Linked DNA regions of Homo sapiens. The protein of the gene in region 1 interacts with the protein of each later gene in a biochemical or structural test. Each region holds a gene or a part of one and is shown in the gene's direction. Other genes may lie near its edges.

Region 1 (7,163 bases):
TAGTGTCAGTAGCTATAAATTACCTAAGAGCTGTCAAGAAAACCAGATAATGACACACATAACCCAAAATTTTGAAAATATGTTCTTTCTCTTACCCAGTTTCTGTGAATATCTACATAAAGTAGTAAATAGACTACTAAGAAAGCAAAAATAGTTTTTCATAGATTCAGCTTAACAAAGGAAGGAACATTGAGAAGTCTTTTATTAAAAAAAACAAACTGAACTCCTATGATGTGCCAGGCCTACTGGGCAGAAGCAGAAAAATAAACAAAATCTTTGTCCTCATGGATTACATTCTGTGGTAAGAAACAGGCCATGCTCATGAACAAATGAAGAAGGTAACTTCAGAAAGTAACATAAAGAAAATAAACACTGTAAGAAGATAGACAATGACAGGTGTGCTTTAGATAAGGAGAAGAGAAGACCTTTTTTAAGAGATGACTTGATGACATCCATGATGAGAAGGAAGCAGCCATGTGGATATTTGGGGCAAAGAATATTTCAAGAAGAGAGGAGGGCACATGCAAAGACCCAGGGACACGTTCTAAAGACAGAATGAAGCCTAATGTGGTTGGAACACAGTGAGGGAGACGAAGAATTGCTGGAAATAGAGTCAGAGAGAAAAGCAGGAGACAAGATAAGGCCAAGTTTTAGTTTTTAAGTTCCAAATGCAACGATAGATCATTTAAGAGGTAGGATAATATGATCTAAGTTTATATTTAAATATCTTATTCTAGTTGCTCTGGGAAGAAGAGATTATTGGTGAAGTAAGAATAGAAGATCGTCAATCCCATGCCTTTTTTCAAGAAATGATAGGACATAAACTGTCTAAGAAGGCAGGTGTCAATGCTAGAAAAACTATTTAACTTGGAGCCTGGAGTCTCTGGAATTTGGTCTTTACTCTTTAATTTACTGGTTATATGACCTTAGACAAACCACTACATTTTGCCCTGTTTCAATTTTCTCACAAGGTGTTGTAAATTTCAAAGGAGAAAATGGGCATGACTGTGCTTAATGAAGTGTGCAGGCTCTACGCAAAAACGAAGTCTTCATTCTTTAGAAATGCCTCAGCCTCATGTTCCTTCACAAACCCTCTTGCAAAGTTCTCTCTAGGTTCTCTAATTTACAGAGAATGCACTTCTTTTTCAGGCTGTGTGGATACAAAAGAGGCTGATATCCACTTCCTCATTGATGGCTCAAGCAGCATCCAGGAGAAACAGTTTGAGCAAATCAAGAGATTTATGTTGGAAGTGACAGAAATGTTTAGCATTGGCCCAGACAAAGTCCGAGTTGGAGTTGTGCAGTATTCAGATGACACAGAAGTGGAATTTTATATCACTGACTATTCTAATGATATTGACTTAAGAAAGGCTATTTTTAACATTAAGCAACTAACTGGTGGAACTTATACTGGGAAAGCTCTGGATTACATACTGCAAATAATAAAAAATGGAATGAAGGATAGAATGAGCAAGGTTCCCTGTTACCTCATTGTGTTGACTGATGGGATGTCCACAGACAGAGTCGTGGAACCTGCTAAGAGACTAAGGGCTGAGCAAATCACTGTTCATGCAGTTGGCATTGGGGCAGCTAATAAAATAGAACTGCAAGAAATTGCTGGGAAAGAAGAAAGGGTTAGCTTTGGGCAGAACTTTGATGCTTTGAAAAGCATAAAAAATGAAGTCGTTCGTGAAATCTGCGCTGAAAAAGGTAAGCAACACAAAAAAGGCTTTATTCTCCACATTTCATCAATTGCTTTAGGCAGATTAATGGCCAGGCTGAGACAAGGCCTGATGTGACCAGTTGTCCGGATAACATTTTGCTAGCTTCCTTTATTACCATGGAGGGATTCAGCCCCTCACTTTTAAACCAAATGCCAAGACTGGAGAATCTGTCTATAAACAGTTGCCCCAAGGCCATCTTGGAAGTCATAAGTGGGAAGGTTGCTAAGAATGTTGGGGCCTTGACAAAGCCCACTGCTGTGGAGTGAGAGAGATTCTATTCTGCATGGGAGGTGTGTGTGTGTGTATGTATGTGCATACACAAATAAGTACGGGGGAAGTACAGTGTTTGTGTGTGCACAGGTGGGTACAGTGGAAGGAAAATGGACTTTGGCTCTAGATAGCTTAGGGTTTGACTCACATACTTCCACTTGAGCCTGGAACATTGTCATTTATAAAATGAGGATAATACCTACATCAGAGAATCCTTATAAGTTGAGCACCATAAATGCCAACCATTATTTTTATATTAAATGCATATCAAGTATATATGTAATAATTGTTCATTTTTATTTACAACAAAAACACATACTTGCATTTTTGTTCTAATTAGAGATTAAGTACCAAAAGTTAGGAGAAACAATTTGCAAATTTCTATATCTGGTTGTTTTTTTATTTCTATTATTAATAATGGCCACTTACACCACTTACTAGTTCAAGATGGTATGTGTTGATTGCCAGTATTAGCACATGAAAATATTGCCTGCTGAGAAGCACATTAGTTTACTGGTAAAGAGGAAAGATGCTAGAGTCAGAGTCAAGGTTCATACCCTAGCTTTACCACTGATTAGCCACGACCTTGAATAAGTTAGTGTCTACTTGCCTTGGTTTCCTTGTTTGTAGGCTTATTGTGAAGCTTAATGGTGATAACACACGTGGAGCAGTTAGAGGAGTGCCTGGAACATAGTAAGCGCTACAAAAAAGTTAGCTGTTGCAGAAGGTGGCTAAGGTGTTCACCGATGAGGAAAGGAAGAGAATTCTCACTTATTTGACTAAACTGAAAACGTGTTTGAATTTTCTCTAAGCCACTGAAAAACAAAAATAAAAAATAAGTAAGCAAATAAATAGCATTAACAACAAAATCCTAAGTAACAATTTTGTTCATTTTTCTCCCTGTTATGGACAGTAACAGAGTTGGGTCTTTAGGGTGTCTTAGAAAGAGTGCAAGAATAAAAGATTCCCCAATGTTTCCTGGAGTCGATGCTAAGAAAAGTAAAAGGATTCCAGGAAGCATAAAGTAGGTTGTATCTCAGATCCTTTCAAGGGAGAAGGTCCTGGACGAATCTAGGGAGGTACAGTACATCCCTTGCACTTCAGGTAGTTGCAGTTGAAGTAGTCAGCCTGAGCACTGGCATGCCTGGAGGAGGAGATAAGTTGTGGACAAGGAAATGAGTCATAAAATGGCTAACAGAGAAGCAGGAAAACAAAGGAGCCAAAGCTTGTGGAGCTAGAAAAAACTAAGGAGTCTCAGAGCAGATGCAGATGGAGTGAGGCACAGTGTATTAGTAGGGTACAGGTTAAGCTGCAATAGCAAAAAGACCCCAGACTACACAGTACAGAATATCATTTTTCTCTTACATAATAGTTTAGGGTGAATAGTCCAGGTCTAGTAGAGAGGCTGTTCCATCCTCAACACATAGCTTCCATCTTTAGGTCAAAACTGAAGATCCAGTTCTTATCACCTTCCATCCATGGAAAGGGAGAAAGGACCAAGGGAGCCTACCACACTCAACTGTTTTAATGGTAAGACCCAGAAGTGGCCAGATCACTTTTTTCTCATACCTTTTGGTTAAAACTTAGACACAAGGCCACAGCTAGCTTCAAGGAAGGCTGGGAAATACAATCTTTAGATGGGCAATCATCTGCCTATCTAAAATTTTATTAACATAGAAGAATGGAAAGATAGATATTCAGGGACATTAAGTAGTTTCTGTCACAAATAGATACCAGGAAGTAGATCCTGTGAATACTAAACTGTATGTAGAAGCCTATTTCTTTTATATGTGTTACATGGAAGAGAATCTTTCACACTTCACTACAGTGGTCAAGGCCACTCTGTCAAGGCCACAAACATCTTCAGCAATTTCTCCTCTCATGACTTTCAAGATGGTTCCATGGCAGCTTGAATCTTAAAATGGTGGTGTAGTCCTCCTGGTGGATCAGAATGTGACCTTACACGTTTATTAAGTAATAGTTAACATCTTTTCATTTTTTTAATATATGGCTGATGCTATGTTTATTTTCAAGAAGTATGGGATAGACTTCAGAATGTTGAGGGAGAAACTGTAAGAGGATGGCAGAGATTACAGATAGACAAAAGGGATTAAGACTAAAAAGATACATGCTAAAGACAATATATTTGCATATTATATATATACACAACATATGTATCATGAATTAATAATATTGTTTTTAATAGATTATAGAAATTGGTTTTATATGTGTACATATGTCTATATTATACATAGAACAATGAACATACATATGTGTGTATATATATGTATATATATATATACGTATGTCTGTATGTTCATTTCCAATCAGTAGGCTGTCTACAAATATTATGTATAAAGGAACAGTCCATGTTGAATGAGTATATGCTTACTGAAGCACTTATCTCTAGTAAAAACTTTTTCTCCAATTTCTAATATTGATTTATAGTGTTTATGAAATCACTTAGAATTATCCCAGAAAATAATGCTATTTAAAAATTATTTGAAATTGTGTTTCTCCAGAATATACATAAAACCCTGGAGTGTTAGTACTATGAGTGCAAGGAATTGATTGCTTTGGCTCTGGTTCCTTTTTTGTATCACTACTGCATCTTTAACACATGGCTGGATGCCTGGCATTTTATACAACTCAAAATTATGATTGAATGAATGAAAGAAATATGAATAAATGAGTTATGCATGCATGCATGCATGCATGAATAAATACACATTTTGGAAGCTGCATTTCTGATTCAAGGTTCTAGTCAACCAGCTTCTACTAAAGAAGCAAATACAATTTTCAAACATAACAACAGTTGCCTGAGTTAATTTTCAATGTTTTCTCATTAATGCATTTGTTTCTGCCTTAATGTTACTTCATGAGAACCTTTCCAACCTGGTTATTTCTGGTCTTTTTTTTTATAACATGCAGGATGTGAAGACATGAAGGCCGACATCATGTTTCTGGTGGACAGTTCTTGGAGTATAGGAAATGAAAATTTTAGGAAAATGAAAATCTTCATGAAAAACCTGTTAACTAAAATTCAAATTGGTGCAGACAAAACCCAGATTGGTGTTGTTCAGTTCAGTGATAAAACTAAGGAAGAGTTCCAGCTTAATAGATATTTTACACAGCAAGAAATTTCTGATGCAATAGATAGAATGTCTCTCATCAATGAAGGCACTTTAACTGGAAAGGCACTAAATTTTGTAGGTCAATACTTCACCCACTCCAAGGGGGCCCGTTTGGGGGCCAAAAAATTTCTCATCCTCATCACAGATGGAGTAGCGCAGGATGATGTGAGAGATCCTGCTAGAATTCTTCGGGGCAAAGATGTGACCATCTTCTCTGTAGGAGTATACAATGCCAATAGATCTCAGCTAGAAGAGATCAGTGGGGATAGCAGCCTAGTTTTTCATGTTGAGAACTTCGATCATCTAAAGGCACTAGAAAGGAAACTTATCTTTCGTGTGTGTGCTCTCCATGGTAAGTGTCCCTGTTATCTGTCAGGACTAAAGGATGTGAGCTGTTGACTTTATAATGAGAAACAGTGAATGGCACTCTGGCCCTGACCTCCACCTGGACTTCAGTGTTAAGTTTTGGTCTTCTTTATGTAATATTAAAATGCCTGTGACCTCCAGGAATGTTTCAGACTAACAATTTTGGCATCTAGTTTGGCACAAGTTAGTATGGCATTGGTGACTTCAAATATGTTCCAAAAAGATCCCAGAATTTTACTTTAAACTTACAAATCTTTAATACCCACATGCCTGGATTTTCCAGAGCCAGTTTTTAATCCCAAATGATTTTCTAGAATTGTTTCTTGGCTATCTATGACCATTGTTAAGCAGAAAATAACTAGAAATACAAATTCGTCTTTCTTTTAGTTAAATTATATCTAGTATCCTAAGCACCACCCACCAAGAAAACCCTGGGTATTTTAAAGATAGTTTATTTTCATTACTTCACATTATTATTCTTAACCTCTATCAACTGGATATTTTATATTTGCCTGTTCGTGTATCCATCCCTTTGAAAAATTGTAATTTGTCACTTTTCTGATTACTTGGGGTCATCATTTTATTCTTACAAATTGTAGTGCTTTTAAAATTGTATTGTGCAACCTTCAGTTTGAGCCTATCAATTTTAATGTCTTTTGAATGAGAGCTTTCTCTCAATCCACACATAGACTAAAACACCTATGTTTTTAAATCTATCATGTGCTATTTTCTGTGTTTTGGATACAACTAAGAAAACAAACCCAAGTAAGTTTGTTTTGTGTTGTTCCTGTGGCAACATAGAGATTTTCATTGGACTTTATTCGTCAAAATTATGCATGTGGAATTTTCAGAAACTTAACATAATGTCTTATAAACACTTAAGTGTTAGGTGATAGTTCTAAAGTTTCCTTGGTAACAGCTTAATTGGAATTTTCTTCTTCCCCCAAAGATGGCAGTGATTCCAAAACTCTTGATAATGTTGAGAGGTGTACCTAAAGGCTATAGCTTCAACTTTGAAACCTGCAAGGCTCTTCTTGGCATTTCTTCATTTTGATTAATGTAAATGTGGAGGCCCTGTCTACAGCATAACCTGAAATTCAGCTGACTCATGCATTAGATTGTCTCCTAAGTATCAGGTCATGACTAGTCACCAGTTCTCAGTGGGTCATTGACCAAGGTTTTTACAGATACAGCCTGGGGACATTCACAGTGTCAGAAAATTAAAAATTTGAGACTTTATTATTAGAAATAAGAGTTGACAATTAGCTAGGCAGGTGGAAAGTGGAGAAAGCCAATCTTTGGAATACATGTGCATAAGTTATTGAGGGAAGGAAAAGAGTGGGGAAAGAGTCCACACTTTGGAAAGCCAGCCAAAACAGTCATTTGTCTTACAATGTGGAGGAGGGTTTGGGGTCAGGGAAAAGGTGATAGGAGTTTTTGCTCTCCTCCTACTTGGGGCCACTTCTTTCTGAGTTCTAATTCAAAAGGTTAGGGGAAAAAGCATAAATAACTGCAGAGAGACATGATAAACAGGGATGGTTTGCATACCCGAGGGTCCAAAGATACCTGGAGCCAGAGGGAGTAGGGTAAAACTACCAACTTATACAGTGAGCTCCTGAGCTTTTCGAAATAGCAGGCCAGTTTGGCAAACATCAGTATATCTCGCCAT
Region 2 (7,000 bases), on another chromosome or scaffold:
GAGTTTATTCTTTCACCTGTGGTGTAGCATGCATATATTAATAACTTTTTCACTATCTGTTTGTGTTTTAATAGCTCAGCTTTCACAGCTGACAGGCATAAGAAAAGAAAACTTTTGGAAAACTCAACACTAAACAGCAAGTTATTAAAAGTAAATGTAAGTAATTAAAATTTATTCAAATATAAGAGTTAGTTGAGATTTAATCACTGTTTTGTTACAACTCTAACATGTAATGTTACCTGTTACAGACTTTTATAAATGTGTGTCTTGGATTTGGAGTATTTTACACAATGTTTGCCACCTGTACTGTCGATTGTTGCCGTGACCCCAGTGAGTCCATCTGTCAGCACCTTCTTCCCATCAGCGTTACTGCTGTGCTCCTCTTCCCTAGAAAACAGTTCACTCTTAATACTTGCTCACACTCCTTCGTCATCAGAAAACCCAGCCTTTGTTTTTAAGACTAAGTCTTTAGCTTCAGGCGGCTTTTCCTTTTTTTGAGATGGAGTCCCACTCCGTAGCCCAGGCTGGAGTACAGTGGCGCAGTCTCGGCTCACTGGAACCTCTGCCTCCCAGGCTGAAGTGATTCTCCTGCCACAGCCTCCCAAGGGGGTGGGACAACAGGTGTACACCACCACGCCTGGCTAATTTTTGTACTTTTATTTTGTTTTTGTTTTTGTTTTTTTTTTTTGAGATGGAGTCTCACTCTGTCACCCAGGCTGGAGTGCAGTGGCACAATCTTGGCCCATTGCAACCTCAGCCTCCTGGGTTCAAGCAATTCTCCTGCCTCAACCTCCCAAGTAGCTGGGATTACAGGCACACGCCACCACGCCCGGCTAACTTTTTCTGTTTTAGTAGAGACGGAGTTTCACCGTGTTGCTCAGGCTGGTCTCGAACTCCTGAGCTCAGGCAATCCACCCACCTCAGCTTCCCAAAGTGCTAGGAGTACAGGCATGAGCCACCACACCCAGCCTTTTTGTATTTTTAGTAGAGACGGAGTTTCGCCATGTTGGCGGCCTGTCTTGAGGCGCCTGGCCTCAGGCAGCTTTTCAAGATTCATATCCCATTGTTAGGAAAACGTGTATTGGTCGTTTATGTATGGCTTAGAGTTAAAAGTTTGGGGACAAAAATACTTGGGGTGTATATATTTATATTTTTTCCATTTCTCTTAGTTTTTATAGAATCTTAAAAAGGCATTAAGTCTTAAATGTTATTTTAAGGATTTCCTGTTTTTTGCATTGTGTACTCCATGGTACTCATTAATGGTGATTTCCTCATAAGCTTTCAATAAGATACTTCTATTTAGAACAATCCCAGGATCAGAAACAGCCTTCTAAAAATATCCAGACATTTATACAGAGACTAGAGAGTTTGTTTGAAATATTCATTGGACAGAAAAGGACCAATTCCAAATTGGCTTGGTGCTAGATTTCAGAGGCCTTTCCTTAGCTTTGATGTTTGAAACAGTTGGCCTTCCCTTGGCATTACTGATGGCCTCTTCTTGCACCACTTACAGGGAAGCACCACTGCCATTTGTGCCACAGGCCTTCGGAATTTGGGGAACACATGTTTCATGAATGCCATCCTTCAGTCACTCAGGTAACGCTACAGTCAGAGCTTAAGTGTCTGACATTAAAGGTTAAGAGCACGGGCTCTGGCTCCCTATCTCGTCTGCCACTAACTCTAGTCATATGGTTTGGAGCAAGATACCTTAATTTCCTGTGCTTTTGTTTCCTCATCAGTAAAATTGGGGACAGTAGTTCCTACCTCATGGGGTAGTTGGGAAGATTGAATAATGTAATTTGTCTAAAGTACTTAGAGCAGTGTCCTGCAGTGAATAGTTGTTTGCGGTTATTTCCGGTTGCTTTTTGAATAGGCTAGAACTGAGGTCAGCAAACTTTTTCTGTGAAAGGCCTGATAGTAAACATTTTAGTATTTCAGGCTACAGTCTCTCTCAGATATCCCCCACCCCCCCGCTCTTTATTAAAACAACACTTTAGGGCCAGGTGCAGTGGCTCAGGCCTGTAATCCCACCAGCACTTTGGGAGGCTGAGGCGGGCAGATCACCTAAAGTCAGGAGTTTGAGACCAGCCTGGCCAACATAGTGAAACCCCATCTCTACTAAAAATACAAAAATTAGCTGGGCGTGGTGGCATGCGCCTCTAGTCCCAGCTGCTTGGGAGGCTGAGGCAGGAGAATCGCTTGAACCCAGGAGGTGGAAGTTGCAGTGAGCCAAGATGGCGCCACTACACTCCAGCCTGGGTGACAAAGCGAGACCCTGTCTCAAAAATAAATAAATTAATTAATTAATTAAATAAAACAACACTTTAAAAATTTAAAACTCGCTTTAAGAGCTGCCTGGTGGAGGGCTAGATTTGGCCTGTGGGCTACAGTTTGCAGACCCCTGGGTTACAGAGAGCCTTGTTCAGAGAGCTTATTTCAGTCATTAGTTAAGTTTTAACCCATTTATGTCAGAGGTTGCAATTTTTCTGTATGAAAAATCAGACGTTGGTGATGACCTCGATCAGTAAGATATAAATAACTCCCAGAAGCTTAGCGTTCCAATAATGGAACACTAGGCATAAATGGGTTAATCAAGGTCATAAGATGAGATGTCTTCAAAATATGAGACAAGTAGTAAAAATAAAATAGTCAACAAGGCTGACTTAAGTTTTGTAGAATAAATTATTTTGAAAGTTGCATACTTTTAGATTTTAATGAGACATCAAAGGCCAGAATAAATGATCTTCCCAAGGTTACATTGCTGATAAGAAGCAGAAGGCATATTTGATCTCTCCTGGAAGGCACTGCCTCTTAGCTTATCTCTTCTTGCTCAAAGAGGAAATTATAATTACTACTGAATTCTCCTTAGGATTCTGTATAGTGTATCAAAATAATATGGTCGGTTTCATGGTTTGTTTTTATTTGAGGAAATTATTGAATAACTGGAAACAAGCAACCGAAAAGAAAGAAATGGTGACTACCTATAGCTGGAGGGAGAATTGGGGATTTTTTTGAAAAGAGATTTTGTTTTCAGCTCTTTGTTTTTTGTTTTTGTTTTTTTACAAAGTCATCTGTCTATACTGTTTTCTTAGAGAGAAGGAAAAATCATAATGAAGAATCTGAATGCAAGAGATTGCACTGAGTACAGTTTAAATGAGACAATTGAAAAATGGCAGTTTCAAAATGTATATGTAGGCTTCATCAACTTTCTTTACAGTCCTATTCTTTTCTTTTTAAAATATTTTTCCCTTCCTTTTAAAATAGTAACATTGAGCAGTTTTGCTGTTATTTCAAAGAACTGCCCGCCGTGGAGTTAAGGAATGGGAAAACAGCAGGAAGGCGGACATACCACACCAGGAGCCAAGGGGATAACAATGTGTGAGTTATAAGAGTATGTCCTTTCTGGCTTTGAGTTACAAAACAAATTACTTTCACTGGTGGTTTCCATTGTACTAAGTGAGCTAACAGGCACATGCCTTAAAAAAAATCTTCTAAAAATTGTGTTTAAATATCTAGTTAGCAATCTTAATAATTGTTGGAATTCCGGCCGGGTGTGGTGGCTCACGCCTGTTATCCCAGCACTTTGGGATGCTGAGGCGGGTGGATCACCTGAGGTCAGTCAAGACCAGCCTGGTCAACATGGTGAAACCCCATCTCTACTAAATATACAAAAATTAGCCGGGCATGGTGGCGGGTACCTGTAATCCCAGCTACTCGGGAGGCTGAGGCAGGAGAATCGCTTGAACCCAAGAGGCAGAGGTTGCGGTGAGCCGAGATCGCGCCACTGCCCTCCAGCCTAGGTGACAGGGCGAGACTCCATCTCAAAAAAAAAAAAAAAAATTGTTGGGATTCCTTTATTTACCGTAACAGGAGGGATAAATTTAGCATTCTACTTATTGACTCTGCAGATTTGGGCATTCTAGAATTGGCATCTAGATATGAAGTGCAGTTCTAGGTGTAGATGACTATGAATCTCATTAGTCCATGTGAGTTGATTTGTCCGACAGTGTTAGGTAAACCTGTCTTGGATACTGAAATTAATTTGTAGTCAACAGATTAGTTGTGGGGGAATAAAGTCAATTTTTGGTTGATACGGAGAGGGGGGGAAGAAAACGGACAAGTGCTCATTAAGAACCAATCCTGTATCCTCATTTGGTGTAGACCTCCCTTATTTGTGGTTCAGAAGATCTTTCATTATGACAATTGTAGTGAGCACATTTTTCATAACTTTACAGCTCTTTTTCAGAAGGACTGTGACTCGTACTCCTTATATATTTAATGTTTTCTCTGTCTGCCTCCTCCACTTCCACACACTCCCATTCTCACTCATTCTGAAGGGGTGATCAGACACTTTCCTGCCTTGGTGGCTGAGGGAGAGTAGGACTGAACATGTCAGAATAATGGGCAGTAGGGCGAGAGTCACAGTGCAGGGAAACTGGAAAGCCAGGCGTGGAGCAGGGCTGGAATGACGTCACTACAAGTGGTGTTTGAAGGGAGTTTCCCTCACAGCAGCATCTAGGATGAGTTGAGCAGCATCTAGGATGAGTTGAAAGTGCCTGCATTCAAGGAGGCTTTGCACTCTACAGTAATCAGGTCAGAGGGGACAGCAGTGAAACAGTAGAAAAAATACATGTGTATGAGTTAAGAGAAGAGTTAGTAGTACTTGATGCATTCATGTCATGCAGGGTTGAGTTGCAGGCTGTAGAAATTGCCTTTGGCTGATTTAGGCAGCAAAGGAATTTACTGCAGGGCTATTGGTGAGCTAATCATACTGGGTGAGTGAAAAATCAGGTCTGGAGTCCGAGGCAGCAGCACCGCAGTCACAGTCACCCCACAGAACTGTCCTGTAAGGCCACCACTGCCTCTGGTGCCCAGCGCAGCAGCAGAGTTCCTGTTGCCAGCACTGCTGGAGATGGGTGCTGGCGGACACAGCCATGCTGCTGCCCTGCACTCCGGATGGTGCTCTTTGCCCCCCCTGCTACCAGAGAGGATTTGGTGCCATCCCTTCTTCTTTGTGTCACTAACTCCTGCTTCGGATGGGCAAAGCCCAGGCTGTGTACCTGTGCTCTGACTGCAAGGGAGCCTGAGAAGGCGAGTGTCTGGCTGTTTAGCTTCGGAAGTGGGAGGCAAACTCTTAAAAGTAGGGATTCTCCAACATAGGAAGAGGGTTCAAGTACTAGGAAGTCAAAAATATGATTTGTATTCCAGGGACCTATGTGATTGTGAGGGTTGAGAAAGAAGATATTGAGATTCTCTGAGATACCAATCAAGTATCCGAAAATATGGTGCTTATGTTGACAGCTATGGAAGTTGAAGTTGAGTTGGATCAGTTTAGCCACAGGTGTAGAAAACCAAAATTAAGTGACTTAAACATCCATGGTTTGTTTCCTCACATAAAAGTCAGAGGCTGTCTGTCTAGGGTGGTTTGACAAAGCCATCGGGCTCCTCCTGGCTTTCTTTTCCACCAACCTCCAGAGGCCCTATCCATCCACATAGTCCCCCATGGTGCTGGGGCTCCCCAACTCCGTCCTCATTCCTAGCAGGAAGAAGGAAAGGATTATTATAGGACTACTCTTTCTTTTTAAGACATTTCCCAGAATTTGGACACACTCAGTTTTTTATTGGGAGAGTTTATATGCCCAGGAAAAAAATGAGCGTTCTATTCATATGCGAGAAGAGTGTGGATATTGGGTGATAGGAGAGGTGTACAGAGAGCAGTAGATGCTGGAGCCGGTCAGTGCACATAGAGGTGAAAGTGACAAGAGGACCTCCCGCAGAAAATTCCTGCTGGAAACTGGAGAAGTTTAAATAAAAATAGTCATGAGAAAATCTGACTTTTGGAGTTGAGAGTCACTGGTGGAGAGCTGAGTGGTGAAGGTTAGTGACACAGGCTGGAGTCTGGGGGTGCTAGTGAGTGGCAAGAAGGACAAGGCAGGAGGGGGAGAAAGAAAGCCGAATGCTTGTTTTGCATTTTGAAAATGTACATTCTTAAGTCATTTGGCCTATAACTCACCCAGTGCTGTATGGTTTGCTTGCGTGTTTTAACTCAAAGTGTACAAACATGGCGGTGCATGGGCACACTCAGAGTTAACCATATGGTTACAAATTAGCTTTGTCAGAATTACTGCTACTTTTATGGGTTTTTGAGATGCTCTTATGTATCTTTCAGACTTTCTTCAGAAAAGACCAAATCCTTTTTAAGTGTTCATTTCCTATATATTAGGCATTTTAGATGGGTGGACGCTGTGTTGAAATTGTAGCCTCTCACTAATCTGAGGGCACTGTCCTTTCCTCTTTTGCAGGTCTTTGGTAGAAGAGTTTAGAAAGACACTCTGTGCTTTATGGCAAGGCAGCCAGACTGCATTTAGCCCAGAGTCCTTATTTTATGTTGTTTGGAAGATTATGCCAAACTTTAGGTAAGTATTATATGAAGATATTTTTAAACATTAATATTAGTGTTTATACTGTTCCTGAAATAATTCCTAATGAAGTGGTTGTATTCTAAATATTCTAAATACTTAAGACTGGTTTGGTGTTTTTTTCTTTTTAAGAAGAAGAGCTGAAATTGAATACATCTGACTAAACACATGTGTTTATTTAAATAATAGACTATAGAAATGTCTTTAACAAGAGGTGGGGTATTTTGTTGCTATAAACATAAAGCCCTTATAAATAACTTATGCGCACTAGGAAAACATACTGGACAAAATTTCCTTAATTCTTTCACAATGTAGAATAATTACCATCACACACTGTCTTGTTATTCCAGCTAAAAAAATTAATAAGATCAGTAGAAGTGCATGGTATTATATGAACTGTTCGGAGCTGAGTTCGGCAGCTCTGGGAAGGCTGTGGTCAAGCGCCTGGGATGCACTCTCCAGAAGGCAGCTGTGCCACATCCCGGTGTGGCCAGAGAGCTGCTGTGGTGCCCATGCTTTCTGTCTCACCTCGCTTGAGCAAAATACACCTCTGCTGTACACCTAGCTGTCAGAGGAATCCT

What was found. Proteins that work in one complex are often made in the same cells at the same time.
Region 2: the proteins of COL6A5 (region 1) and USP3 form a complex in vitro, tested with the Homo sapiens proteins (one study listed by BioGRID).

The regions. Positions count from the first base shown.
Region 1 is NC_000003.12:130,383,655-130,390,817, forward strand, and holds part of COL6A5 (collagen alpha-5(VI) chain isoform 1 precursor), read left to right. Parts: intron 1-1,149; coding exon 1,150-1,710; intron 1,711-4,925; coding exon 4,926-5,480; intron 5,481-7,163. UniProt on the Homo sapiens protein: Collagen VI acts as a cell-binding protein.
Region 2 is NC_000015.10:63,556,593-63,563,592, forward strand, and holds part of USP3 (ubiquitin carboxyl-terminal hydrolase 3), read left to right. Parts: intron 1-74; coding exon 75-156; intron 157-1,513; coding exon 1,514-1,596; intron 1,597-3,264; coding exon 3,265-3,378; intron 3,379-6,302; coding exon 6,303-6,416; intron 6,417-7,000. UniProt on the Homo sapiens protein: Deubiquitinase that plays a role in several cellular processes including transcriptional regulation, cell cycle progression or innate immunity.